Linked DNA regions of Homo sapiens. The main gene of each other region encodes a partner of the protein of the gene in region 2 in a complex. Each region holds a gene or a part of one and is shown on either strand. Other genes may lie near its edges.

Evidence for each region. The genes of interacting proteins can lie anywhere in the genome.
Region 1: the proteins of INTS4 (region 2) and INTS7 are in contact, whole or in part, in a cryo-EM structure (PDB 8RC4), measured with the Homo sapiens proteins. Residues at the interface, in NP_291025.3 of Homo sapiens: Glu536, Met539, Asp540, Arg571, His572, Ala574, Tyr575, Asp578, Ser579, Ser610, Phe613, Arg620, Leu624, Leu627, Gly631, Glu634, Leu635, Phe638, Arg641, Asp642, Arg645, Leu646, Glu648, Leu649, Gln650, Lys677, Leu678, Trp679, Asn680, Val681; in NP_056249.1 of Homo sapiens: Lys137, Asn138, His140, His141, Arg144, Gln145, Gly175, His205, His206, Asp207, Ala208, Ser244, Ser245, Leu246, Val247, Lys282, Thr283, Pro284, His285, Thr286, Thr321, Ile322, Lys325, His326, Gly686, Tyr689, Glu704, Gln707, Gln708, Leu711.

Annotation. Positions count from the first base shown.
Region 1 is NC_000001.11:211,941,558-211,948,586, forward strand, and holds part of INTS7 (integrator complex subunit 7), read right to left. Parts: intron 5,149-7,029; coding exon 5,050-5,148; intron 3,413-5,049; coding exon 3,227-3,412; intron 555-3,226; coding exon 267-554; 3' UTR 1-266. UniProt on the Homo sapiens protein: Component of the integrator complex, a multiprotein complex that terminates RNA polymerase II (Pol II) transcription in the promoter-proximal region of genes.
Region 2 is NC_000011.10:77,984,658-77,991,725, forward strand, and holds part of INTS4 (integrator complex subunit 4), read right to left. Parts: intron 6,643-7,068; coding exon 6,451-6,642; intron 1-6,450. UniProt on the Homo sapiens protein: Component of the integrator complex, a multiprotein complex that terminates RNA polymerase II (Pol II) transcription in the promoter-proximal region of genes.

The DNA of each region.
Region 1 (7,029 bases), on a different chromosome or scaffold from region 2:
ACTGTGTTAGCCAGGATGGTCTTGATCTCCTCGTGAGCCGCCCACCTCAGCCTCCCAAAGTGCTGGGATTACAGGCGTGAGCAACCACGCCCAGCTGTCAGACAAAATTTTTAAGAAAACAAAATTTTTTCCAGAATATTACATTACAAAAATCAATGAATAAATGAACTACACTGTAACTTTAATACTTATTCCATATGAAAAACCAAACTGTTTCTGGCAATTTGATTGATCTCTTGAGAGTCTGCAGTGCATTCATTCCATGGTTAAAACCGTGTGTAGGCATTGCGTTGCTGCTGCTGCTGTAATGGCTGCTGGGCTTGCTGCTGTTGTAAGCGAATTTGCTGGGAATAAGGGTCTTCCAGGGATTTTACAAATATGGTAGTTCTGGGACCAGTCTTCCATACTATACCATTGGCATCTTTCACAGAAGATTCCACTGTAATGTTGTGTGTTCCAAGGATAGCAAAGTTCAACAGAAATTGAGTACTGAAGTAATCATTATGAGGTTCAACCCTTTGCTCCATCTCATTGGTCATGTTGTCAATGGGTATCTGCAATGAAACAATTGTTAACTAACAACAATGGCTAACATTTCTTCAGTGCTTACTATGAGTTAGGCCCTGTTCTAAGAGCTTATTTAGACCATGCAGACAATAAAAAATTAGGTACTGCTATCATCCTTGCTTCACCGATGAGGAGTCTAAGGCAGACAGGTTAAGTAATGTCTCCAAAGTCACATGATTAGTGAACGGAGTAGGAATCTGAACACAGGCAGACTACCTCCAGGGCCTACACTCTGAACTACTAAGTGATGCTCCTCACTCTACTTGAGTAGAATGAGCTCCCAGAGCCGTTGACAGCCCCTTCACATGCTGGCCTTTCTTCCTTGCTTACTCAACCCCATCTCTAAATCCCTATCTTCCTTTAGACTGTGAAGAGATATTCTGAAGAAATAGGATGAAATCACCTGTTCCAGAGAGTTTAAAACCTAAGAGACTGAAAAAGAACAAAACACTAAGCAAATTTAAGTTAGGTTCCCCCCCAACAGTTAGTCTGATTTTTATTACTTAATGTAGTGATTCCTTACTCCTTTAACAAATTAACTGAACCATTTGTACATTGCTCATTTAATAAGCACTGTTTTGTTCAGACTGGAAGTACAATATGTTATAAAACACAGATTTATAGGCTCATTCATTTAGCCAGACACTCATGCCTTTGTTCTTCAAAGACCAGAATAAAACCTGCTGACGTACTCTTACCTGTACCCAAGATGAAACGTGTCAAGAGACAGATTTATCCTGAGAATGCAAATAAAGGTGATCTTAATGTGTATTTGACCAAATTACTCTAGGTTTATGTGCGTGTTTCTGTGGTGTAATTAATTATATAAATGTGCCCTGCAGCTTTGTGTCTCAAGGAGCAGTTATCATGTCACTTTTCCAGAGACATTTACCTGTAATAGTAATGAACTGACGTCACCAACCAATTCAAGGTCTTAGAATTATTTATAGTACAGGTACTTTTTCACATTTAGCCTTTGTACAGTTTTTATTTCCCTAAAGAATATGCCAACCAAAGAACTTCCTTAAAAGGACCAGAAATAGGCCTAGGGAACCTGATCACCCTGAATGGATGGCTGCATCTTAAGCTGCAAACTCACTGTGAATAACACTGCAAAGTAATCATGTTATTACTCGGCTTATTATATCAGCTTCCTGACTTTAATCAATGCCTCTTGAGAGGTAGGTCAACAAGCAGAAGACCATAGCTTCTAGGTTTGAATGTTATTTTCTTAACAGTAGAAATTATATGCAAGTAACAAAGAGAATCATGGTTACTACTGTTTCAAATTCAAAGTGAAGAGAGAGTTGCAGACAGGGATAAATTATGTAAATTCTCATTACAACCTTCTGTGACAGCAGATACCCAATTTTAACAGTTATACTCTAAATATAGTAAATAATTTTTTCATCATTCACAAATTATTGAGTGGCTACATAAGGTACCATGCTGTATGGCACAGAAGTCAAAACAGAGGAAAAGAGGAGAATGAAGGCTCAGCCGTGTCAGAGTGGACAGAGTGCCAAAGTGAGAGGAACTTGCCATAGTTAAGAAAGTAGTAATGGCTTAAGAAAGTAATAATAGTTTAGAACCAGACCTTCCCTTGGCTTTTTAACCTAAAACCACCAAAGATAATAAAATGCTCTCTTTTTATACCTTCACTGATACCCTGCCTTCCATGCTATGCCACAATAAACCTGGACACAGCCAATCTGGGCATCTGAGTAACTTCGCTGCTACAACTGTGGACTTGGTCCCTTGCTTCATTTACTGTGGATAAACCACCAGGGAATCGGAAATAAATGTCTAAAGCAAGGAACATTCTTTATCTCGAACACTGGCATTTCATGGGCACAGATTCAGCATCTTAGCTCTGGCTAACAATGTAGCCTAATTCAGGTTATTACTTACCTATATCCTGAGTTCCCAAGGCAGCAAATCCCTAGGGTTACACTCTTAAAAAAAGATTTTACTTTATCTGATCATTTTATAGAAATGCTATATACTTTTTTTAATGATAAAATTTACTTAAAATGGAGAAAACTAAATAGATGTGTATTTTTTGTGGGGAGGGATTGGGTGGGTTAGGGAGACACTTATTTTCCAACTTCTGACGTTTGAAGGGACCTCCTGATGTAAGAGAGACCTTTCGTTAGATTAATATTACTGACCTAGCAGGGAGGAGGTGAGTCTTGCTGATGGGTGACTTTCTGGGCAGGAACCAGACATGGGAAGGTAAGCACTTGCTCTTTCTCTTCTGCTTTGGGCACCTGAGTCCTCTGTGCCCTGCCATAAATTTTATAGGGGCAGGCTCCCATACGTACTGACTGAGGCTGGGTGAAAAAATCCAATTCAGGGGTCTACGGTTAGAAAGGCCTTGCTGCCAGGCATTGGAGTTAGGTTTTCCCACAGCTCCAACAGTAATAAAACTCATATTTTGATCTTTGCCTGGATGCTTTGTCTCTATCAACTGGTTCAGGGAGAGAAAAAGAAGTGTTTATCAACCCCTTACAGCCCCAATGTGGGCTTTTAATTTATGTCCATCTGATCCCTTTGGAGGTATAACTGCAATCTATTTAACCATGAAAAACACTGGAAAACTTCCATCAATGAGCTCATATAAAACCTGTATCACAATTCTGCCTCTTTTCTAAATTACCTTGTAGTCTTGTCCAGATTTACTCTGCAGTGTGGAAGAAACATTCAGACAGACAGACTGAATTTTGCGGAAGAGTCCTGGTTTAGATCCGTGCTGAACCACTCCCTCTACCTTTAGCGCCAGCTGCTGGTTATTCTGGACAGCAATGGGCTCTGCAGGATTCCGGGGCGATGGTGACAGAGCAAGCTGGAATGCCAACACTCAAATAAATGCCAACAACCAAGAGCAAGCTTCCTTCCGACAAACATGTCTGTGCTAATCACTGGTTACAGGTTAACAAATTCGATTGTGCACTCCCCCACCCCCACAGGACCTGACTGTGCCAGGACAACGAGACAGATGTACCTTTAAAGTGCCTCCTTCTAAACATCACTGTGGTTTTCATCCCAAACCTCAGTTCTATTTGAGGATAATAGAGAATTAGAAAAAAGCAAAGGCACTATTCTCCCAATTTTTGTGGTGAGGCATTTCTTTGACAATGAACCACTTCTAGTAGGGAAAGGCATTATATAAATTTTCATTACCTAAGAGCTGTCTCTTTGGTCTTACGTAATTTTAAATAAACTAAATTCAAATGTAAATGAACTTAAAGTTCCAGGATTATCTACACAACGAAGTCACTGTGCTATAAAAAAAGTCAATATCTACAAATGAATCAAATGACATTTTTCACCTCTCATTAGTTTTTCTTCAAAAATGTATTAAAAATCCCAAACACATCAATTAAAGAAAGCCCAAGTCTTGCTAAATGAAAAGATGGAAGAAATTTGAGTCTTTTTGATAATGTTGTTGAACTACTGATCAACCCTGGAGACATCCTACTTTAGGACTTCTTATCTAGATCGTCAAATCTTCCTCATTATTCCAGTCATTTTGAAATGGAATGCTCTGTTATTTGTAATCAAAACATTTGCATGGATGTAAAAGTTTACTGAAGACATTAACTAACAGGGATAATCCAGGAGATCTCTTAGAAGTGACAATTTTCTCCCTTTTCCAACAATTTCATTTTCTGAATCAAAAATAGCTTTTGAATTGTGAGTGGCTTAAATATTTCAAAATACTAATTCTACTCACTGGTTAGCCCCTCAAAACATGTTACTGAAAGGCAGAAGTACTTTGGAAGAAGAACTGGTGACAGTTTACTGGATCTGATTCATTCTAAGTTGGGTCTATAAGTTGGGTCTGAATAGACTCAGCTCAAGATCCTTGCAGGCTACTGTGATAAATCACTAATTTATTCCTGGAGGTGAGAGACAAACAACAGAGCTCCAGTTACCCAAATGCCTGTCTCATAGAATTTGGCACTGACAATTAAAAAGGGAGAGAGTTTAACTCCCAAATTCATTTCTTTCACCAAACCACTTGATAAAGGAGAGAAATGGCTTACAACTAGGTTTTATCAAAACCAAAGGTAAGCCAGGCACAGTGGCTCATGCCTGTAATCCCAGCACTTTGGGAGGCAGAGGTGGGTGGATCACTTGAGGTCAGGAGTTCCTGACCAGCCTAGCCAACATGGTGAAACCCCATCTTTACCAAAAATAAAAAAATCAGCTGCGTGAGGTGGTGGATGCCTGTAATCCCAGTTCCTTGGGAGGCTGAGGCAGGAGAATCGCTTGAACCCGGAGGTTGCGGTGAGCCAAAATCACACCACTGTACTCCAGCCCAGGCGACAGGGCGAGACTCTGTCTCAAAAAACAAAACAAAACAAAAAAACCAATAAACCAAAGGTAACACACTGAAGTGTAGCTATGTCCTACATAATCTTCAGAAGACACCTGGTTTTAAAACCTATATTAACCTTAGTATTCTTCCTGTATTACCTTGATGCTGGTAGACTGTAGTTTCTGGAAAAAATATCTCTGGAAAGAAAGGGGAACTTTCAGCAAAGCAATGATGGCATTGCAGAGGCATGCTGTGTGCTGGGGGAAAAAAGAAACTAAATCAAATAAAAATAAATTTTCAAATTTCATCAACAAGTGGTACATTCAGTATAAAACTACAAATGCCCATATAGATTATTACAAAGGTACATACCAATCAAGAACTAGGCATCACATCCAGGAACTGTGCATACATACTAAATCATTCATTACAGATTTTTACTTTATTGTGAAGTATATTCAATAAAATATAAGTGACAGAAATGAGAAAATCCACAGTCCTCGAGGCCAAGCAATAGGCAAATTCCACATTTCTACAGCGCTCAGAACTATCAGTATATTATTAAACAATTATATTAGATACTAAAATATAGAGTAACTATCACATGGCAAAGTATGATAAACAGTATGGTAAAGAAGCCCGAGCATTTTGCAGGACTTTGGCTTTGAGCTGGCTCATTCTTTCATTAGGTGGCTTGTCTCTATGGCCATTGGTCCTCAGAGTAAGCAGTGGTGGAAACTTGGTCGAATTCAGATGAAAGAGGACTATATAGTCGGGGAATCCTGAAACTCTAATAAAATATCTTATTTCTCAAATCTGCCTCACACATTTAACTGAGTTTTGAAAATCCCAGCATGACTGCAGAGGTACAGAAACACCACAGAGAATATTTTGAGCCTTAATGAAAGTGGTCATAAAATCAGAATTTAAGCGTTCAAAGATATTTTAAAGATTACCCAGTCTAATAGAAGAAAACTGAAAGTATCATAAGAACACTTTTAACTTCAGGTGAACCAGAACCATTCCTGCTTGGTCTACTATCCCTTCCTCAGTCTACTCCCGTCTCAGTGGCCTCGTAAGTCACCACAGTGAGGCAGCGCTCCTTTCACGGGGGCACTAGCTGCGGGAGGTCTGTTCTTGCAGACCCGATTCAGCAACGGATAAATAAAGTATGCTGACACACAGATATTCTGCTCTGCCAGTCCAGCTGAGGGTCCCAGCCGCTTACAGGCTCCTGCTGAGTCCTGTAAACAGTTGCAACTAGGCCCTGATCAGCTAGTCAGACTCGCATTTATTCAGTAAGATTAATTAACAAAAGCTTGAGTCAACACCATTAGAGGGAAATTGACATTGTGGACTTCTGAGTAAAAGGCACTTAAGCACTCACGGTACATCAAAGGTTAGTCTTTATATGAGTAAACAAGCTAGCCAGGTAAACTACTCTGCCTTTCTTTATTACTATTTTAATTTGTTTAAAGGTAAAGAGATCAGGCCGCCTTCAGCCAGATCTATTACTGAAGTTAGGCAAACTTCTCAGCCTTCCAAGAAGATTTGTGTCTATTTCTATAACTATCTCTAATATTTTTCCCACCAGCCTGATTGAAACCCAACACCACAGGTTGAAAACTGCTGCATGCACCATGTGGTATGCTGTCTGTCCCTCTAGGCTCCTGCTTTCAAGCAGAGTGTCACCTAGTTGCTCATGCTGTAAACATTTTTTTTTTTAAAGTTGGGTGTTAAGGCTAAAAGCCAGAAAAATCCATTCCTTATTGGGTTCAGGCAATTGAACATTTTGTGCCCAACAGACTCATAGTACAAATGCCAAGTCTATTACCTGAGATAATCACAACACAGATTTAAAGACACTGGTTCTATTTTTTCAGATTTAACTGTTAAAATAGCATTAATCAGCTTCCTGCAACAAGTAATTTGGAAAGTATTTGCAGAGACATCCACCTTTGGTGGACCTCTGATGCCACACTAGTGTCTAAGGAGAGAAACATCTTTGAAGCGTGGACTCAGAGGACCACAAGGGACTTCAGGCTGTTTTCAGGCAGAAAGTCACCATTTTGCCTTTTAAAAGAATGGTGCAGATTTTGCAATACCCTCTTGGAAAAGTGTGGAGTGCCTCTGAGGTC
Region 2 (7,068 bases):
CACACATGAACTGCACACTTAAAATGGTTAAGATAATAAATTTTAATTGTTACCACAATTAAGAAATGATTAGCCAGGCATGGTGGCACATGCCTATAGTTCCAGCTACTTAGGAGGCTGAGGTGAGAGGATTGCATAAGCCTGGGAGGTGGAGGTTTCAGTGAACCATGATAGCACCACTGCACTCCAGCCTGGAGTGAGACCTTGTTAGGAAAAAAAAGGGAAAAAAGGGGGGGAAAAGAAAATAAATGTAAATGAAAAAAAAAAAAAAGCAGATAAGAGAGCATCTGACCTAGTGACATTCCTTATCCATTTGGATACTTTACTCAAGTTCTTTTACTTTCTGAAATAATCCCTTAGCACTCCTTCTACTATGACACATAAATGATCTCCTTCACACCTGAGCTAAAAACAGAATTACCTCCAGGGAAGCCTTCTCTAATAATTGTTTCTTCTGACCATTAAAACTGTCTTGGTTCAGGCTTTCATCACCTTTCCCCAAACTTACAGTCTTCTAATTGGTCACTCTAACTCCAGTCCATCCAATTCCTTTATCCTCCATACTTCCCCTCAGAGTGACATTTCTAAAACAAAAACTGACAAGGTAGAATACAAGGCCCTTTAGAATCAGATGCCTTCCAAATCTTCTGGTCTTATCTCTTGATGAGCTCCCAACCTAAAATCTGCACCAGCCAAACTAGCTGCATTTCTTCTAATGTGATAGCCTGTCTCACATCTCCATGCCCATGTTCACGGTTGCTCACAACTAAAATGTCTTTCCCCCTGTCTTCCAACTGGCCAAAATCTATTTCTAGGACTTTTCTCAAGCATCGCTACCACTCTATAATGCATTTCTGGATCCCTGCTTCCAATAATTAATCGCCCCCTTCTTTGAGGCCATATCATAACCTACCCCAGATTTCATAAGACCTGAAACACTGTATTGTTATTAATTCATTTCTTATTTACTCAAGACTCAGATCAGGGATTACATCATCTACATCTCTATTACCAACATGAAGCACAAAGCCTGGCACAGAGTAAGTATTCAGACATGCTGAGCAAATGAAAAAATAAGCAAATGGAAAACTTTAGCACTTACTATCTACATACTACATATATGGTCTGCCGACTACACTGCTAGCCCCTAAAGGACAAAGAACATATCTCACAGCTCTGCATCCTCCATAGCTACTAGCACAGTAGCATAAGTGAAGAATCAATCATGTGAAATAAGTTCAGATACTAATGCCTGATCACAAAAAAAAAGTAGGAAAAAGCAGAAGCCAGAGTAGTTTTATCCACTAAAATATTAACATAAAATACCACATTTCTGGATAGAACAGAAGAAAGGGTAAAAAACACTATGGTCAACAATCTAGAACTGGGTCCATCTGGCATCCCTCCTCATTTCCTTAGGAGCTAGGGTCCACTTGATTAATGCATGCAGCATGGACTGGTTAAAGTGCTTGAGATCTGACATCAGAACACCTGAGTTAAATTTTGCTTTTAGACATGACAAAAGATTATGTTTTTTAAGAGTCTTCGCCACATTTATGCAGCCAACAGACACATGAAAAAATGCTCACCATCACTGGTCATCAGAGAAATGCAAATCAAAACCACAATGAGATACCATCTCACATCAGTTAGAATGGCAATCATTAAAAAGTCAGGCAACAACAGATGCTGGAGAGGATGTGGAGAAATAGGAACACTTTTACACTGTTGGGAGTGTAAATTAGTTCAACCATTGTGGAAGAGAGTGCGGCAATTCCTCAAGGATCTAGAACTAGAAATACCATTTGACCCAGCAATCCCATTACTGGGTATATACCCAAAGGATTATAAATCATGCTACTATAAAGATACATGTGCACGTATGTTTATTGCGGCACTATTCACAAGAGCAAAGACTTGGAAGTAACCCAAATGTCCACCAACGATAGACTGGATTAAGAAAATGTGGCACATATACACCATGGAATACTATGCAGCCATAAAAAAGGATGCGTTCATGTCCTTCGCAGGGAAATGGATGAAGCTGAAAACCATCCTTCTCAGCAAACTATCACAAGGACAGAAAACCAAACACCGCATGTTCTCACTCATAGGTGGGAATTGAACAGTGAGAACACTTGGACACAGGGCGGGAAACATCACACACCGGGGCCTGTTGGGGAGTGGGGGGCTGGGGGAGGGATAGCATTAGGAGAAATACCTAAAGTAAATGATGAGTTAATGGGTGCAGCAAGCCAACATGGCACATGTATACACATGTAACAAACCTGCACGTTGTGCACATGTGCCCTAGAACCTAAAGTATAATAATAAAAAAAGAGTCTTCACCACTTAAAGATATAAATCAAAATTTATGATTAAAATAATATGATGCCAGGAATTTATTTTCATAAGAATCTGGTGGAGAAGGTGAGGGTAAAGAAGTAGAAGTGGATTGGGGAAGAGGGAAAATGAAACAAGTTTGGCCACAAAATGATAATTTTTGAAGCCAGGTAATGGGTACATGGGAATTAATTAAACTATTCTCTTTACTTACATAGTATATATCTGAAATGTTCCATAACAAAAGGTTTTTTAAAAAAAAAACCCAAGTTCAAATCCATACCTTCCATTTACTAGCTGGGTGACCTTGGATACTAAACAGCTCTAAGCTTAGTTCCATATCTGGAATTTAGAGATAACAATGGTGCTGTCACCAGGATTAAATAAAATATTACATATGGAAAGTGCTTTCAAACTCTAACAAGCAATATAATGTTAACTGCTCTAAGAAGTATTATTATAGATGATTATTGGTAACAGATCTTTAATATAATAATAATGGTAGATATTGCTAAGAAAAAGACTAACGGAAAATAGATCACTGAGAGATCGAAAACTTCTTGAGAACAGAAATCCTGATTTTGGTCAGATGTGGTAGCTCACGTCTGTAATCCCAATCCTTTGGGAGGGCCAAGCAGGAGGGTTGCTTGAGCTCAGGAATTCGCGACCAGCCTGGGCAACACAGAGAGACTCCATCTCTACAAAAAAAATTAAAAAGAAAAAATTAGCCGGGAGTGGTGGCATGTGCCTGTGGTCCCAGCTCCTCAGGAGGCTGAGGTGGGAGGATGGCTTGAGCCTGGGAGTCCAGACTTCAGTGGGCAGTGATCACGCCATTGCACTCTAGATTGGGCAACAGAGCAACACTCAAAAAGATGCCAGGCACAGTGGTTCATGCCTGTAATCCCAGCACTTTGGGAGGCTGAGGTAGGTGAATCGCTTGAGCCCAGGAGTTTGAGACCAACCTTGGTAACATGGTGAAACCTCATCTCTATCAAAAATATAAAAATTAGCCAGTCTCATAACCCAGTCTCTAGATAGATAGATACGATTTTTTAAAAAATTTTTTAAAGAAAAGAACAACAAAAAAAGAAAGCCTGATTTTATTCACGTAAAACATAAGTGAAACATTTATAATGTCCCTTCAATGTTCCTAGGAACCTGCCAGGCACTGGGATAGAGACTAATGGATCTGCAGCCTCTGAATTTACGGAGCTCAAAGTCTGAAGGAGATAGACACATATGGCAAACAATTGCAACGCATAAGACTTAACAATTGTGCTAATGGACACCGTCCAGTGCCCAGAACAAAGTCTGATATATATTTGTTGAGTAAAATGTATCACAAAAGCATCAATTAATTCATTTATTCATTCAACAAATATTTATTTTACCAGGCACTGTTCTTGATTCTGTAGAAACAACAATTAAAAAACATAAAAATCCCTGCTCAAGGGAAGCTTATGTTCCTGCATGGGGAAATGGACAAGGAACATAATTAACAAGAAATTATACAGAATATTAGAAGATGGTAATTACTATGGAGAAAACAAAATCAAGGAAGGGGACTAGGAAGTGCGGGGTGGGGATAGGCAGTTTCGATATGAAACAGAAGGGTAAAGGAAGACCTCAATGTAACGGTGACATTTGCATGCTGATAGCTGCAATATGAAGTACAAGTCACCATTTATAACATAGTCTTAAAATTGTCAAAAATATGCTTAACTTAAATCTAACAAAGCCTATAGATCTAACTTTCAGTTCATAGTAAATACAGAGAACAGAGGAACAAGTTAATCCTTAAAGAAGTAAATGAATTCAGAAAACAAGACATTTTACAAAAGAACTGTCTCAGTTTCTTCATCAAATCAATGTCACCAAAATAGTAACTGTTGTAGATTTTTGAAAAGACTGAATGCCATGTGGGGACCTGGTTTGCATTTTGATTTGAATACATCAACTATAAAAAGGTACTGGGAGAACAACTACAGAAATCTAAATATCAACTAATTCTTAGATGACATTAAAGAATTACTTAACTTTATTCATTAGGGTTAGGTGGCTATGTTAAAAAATAAAAAGTCCCTCTACTTTCTCATAGCAGTGAGAAAAAAAAAGAAAACAACAAAAAGGTATCCCTTTTTAATAGATATGTAATGAAATAATTAGAAAAAAATGACATATCTTTTTAAAAATTCAACAAAACAAGGCTGGGCGCGGTGGCTCACACCTGTAATCCCAGCACTTTGGGAGGCCGAGGCAGGTGGATCACCCGAGGTCTGGAATTCGAGACTAGCCTGGCCAACATGGTGAAACCCCATCTCTACTAAAAATACAGAATTAGCTGAGCGTGATGGCGCACTCCTGTAGTCCCAGCTACTTGGGAGGCTGAGGCAGGAGAACTGCTTGAACCCAGGAGTGCTATTACACTCCAGCCTGGGCAACAGAGTGAGACTCATCTCAAAAAAAATAATAACAAAATAAAATAAAATTCAGCGAAAAAATAGAGCAAATTTGGCAAAATACTAATAACTGTTAAATTCTAGGAATGGATATTTGGTAGGTCACTATAGTATTTTATCTACTTTTCCATAAGCTTAACAATTTGGGGGCTGAGTGTGGTGGTTCACACCTGTAATCTCAGCAATTTGGAAGCCCAAGGAGGGTGGATTGCTTGAGCCCAGGAATTCGAGATCAGCCTGTGCAACATAGCAAAGCCCTGTCTCTACAAAAAAAAAAAAAAAATACAAAAATTAGCCAGGCATGCTGCACATGCCTGTAGTCCCAGCTACTCAGAAGGCTGAGGCAGGAGGATCAATTGAGCCTCGGAGGTCGAGGGTACAGTGAGCCGTGATAGCACCACTGCACTCCCGCCTGGGCGAGAAAGCAAGACCCCATCTCAAAAATAATAATAGTAATAATAATAATGATTTTTGGGCTGGGAATGGTAGCTCACGCTTGCAATCCCAGCACTTTGGGAGGCCAGGGTGCATGGATCACTTGAGGTCAGGAGTACAAGACCAGCCTGGCCAACACAGCAAAACCCCACCTCTACTAAAAATACAAAAAAAATTAGCTGGGTGTGGTGTCACACACCTGCGGTCCTAGCCACTCTGGAGGCTGACGCAGGAGAATCACTTAAACCAAAGAGACGGAGGTTGCAGTGAGCCAAGATTGTGCCACCACTATACTCCAGGCTGAGTGACAGACCAAGTCTCAAAAAAAAAAAAAAAAAAAATGCAAAACTTAGCCTGGAGTAGTGGCACGTCTGCAGTCCCACCTACGTGGAAGGCTGAGCCAGGAGAATCACTTAAGCCCAGGAGTTCCAGGCTACAGTGACCTATGATGATGCCACTAAACTCTAGGCTGGGTGACAGTGAGCCTCTGTCTCAAAAACAGTTTTTTTGGCCAGACGCAGTGGCTCACGCCTGTAATCCTAACACTTTGGGAGGCCAAGGTGGCTGCATCACTTAAAGTCAGGAGTTCGAGACCAGCCTGGCCAACATGGCAAAACCCCGTCTCTACTAAAAATACAAAAATTAGCAGGGTGTGGTGGCACGTGCCTGTAATCCCAGCTACTAAGGAGGCTGAGGCAGGAGAATCGCTTGAACCCAGGAGGCAGAGGTTGCAGCGAGCCAAGATTGCACTACTGCACTCCAGCATGGGCAACAGAGCGAGACTCTGTCTCCAAAAAAAAAAAAAAAAAAATGTATTTTTAATTAAAAAAGAGGGCCACTGCAATTAGATATGAGGGCCATGAATTAGGAAAGGAACAGCAGGACCACATTCCAGAGATGAATGGGTCATGATTGATATTTACTCCTCTTTTGTGCTTCCACTGTACTCTGCACATACTGCACTCACAGTAACTTCAGCAGTATGATGCACCTTATCATTGACATGTCTTGTTTCCATCTACTATACACAGTATAACTTTCTGAGGTCAAGATCTGTATCTTTTTTATCTCGGTATCCATAGTACCTAGCACTTGGAAGACACTCAATAAAAGCTTCCTAATGAATACCCTATTTATTTGTAATATTAACCATTCTGCAGACATGATACAACTCCCATGATATACTCCCATCAGATCCTCAAGATTTTCTTACCTTGTAATAATGTTCCAAGAGAATCCTGACTACTCCCTCTACGCTTTCCGCCTCGACAGGCTTCCTGGCAAACTGGAGCAAGTATTGCAAAGCATCTGCTGGGGAGGTAGCTTTACACAGATCTATGTGGAGTGCTGCAGATTTACTTGGTTTTGTTAGTCGGAGTTTCTTAGTAGCAATTTCCTCCTGTGGCTGCAAGGGGTAGAGAAAATCGAAAACACAGAATCTGCAAATTTAACTTTGCCTCATTTGGTGGAAATGATTTTCCATTATACCAAATAATATATTTAGCTGATGGACTTAGGAAAATACAGTATTATAAACCAGAAAGAGTACCGGGTTGGTGACAAGGCCATGAGTCTCAATTTTGCCTTTACCAGTTCCTATGACTTTAGGCAAGTCATTTAATTTCTCCGAGTCTCAGTTTATGTCTCTGTAAAATAGGTATACTTTTTTTTTTTCTTAGAGATGGAGTCTCTCTATGTTGCCCAGGCTGGTCTTAACTCCTGGGCTCAAGCAATCCTGGCACCTCAGCCTCCCAAAGTGCTGGGATTACAAGCATGAGCCACGGTGCCCAGCCTTACACTAACATTTTGCTCTACCTATCTCTGAGGATTG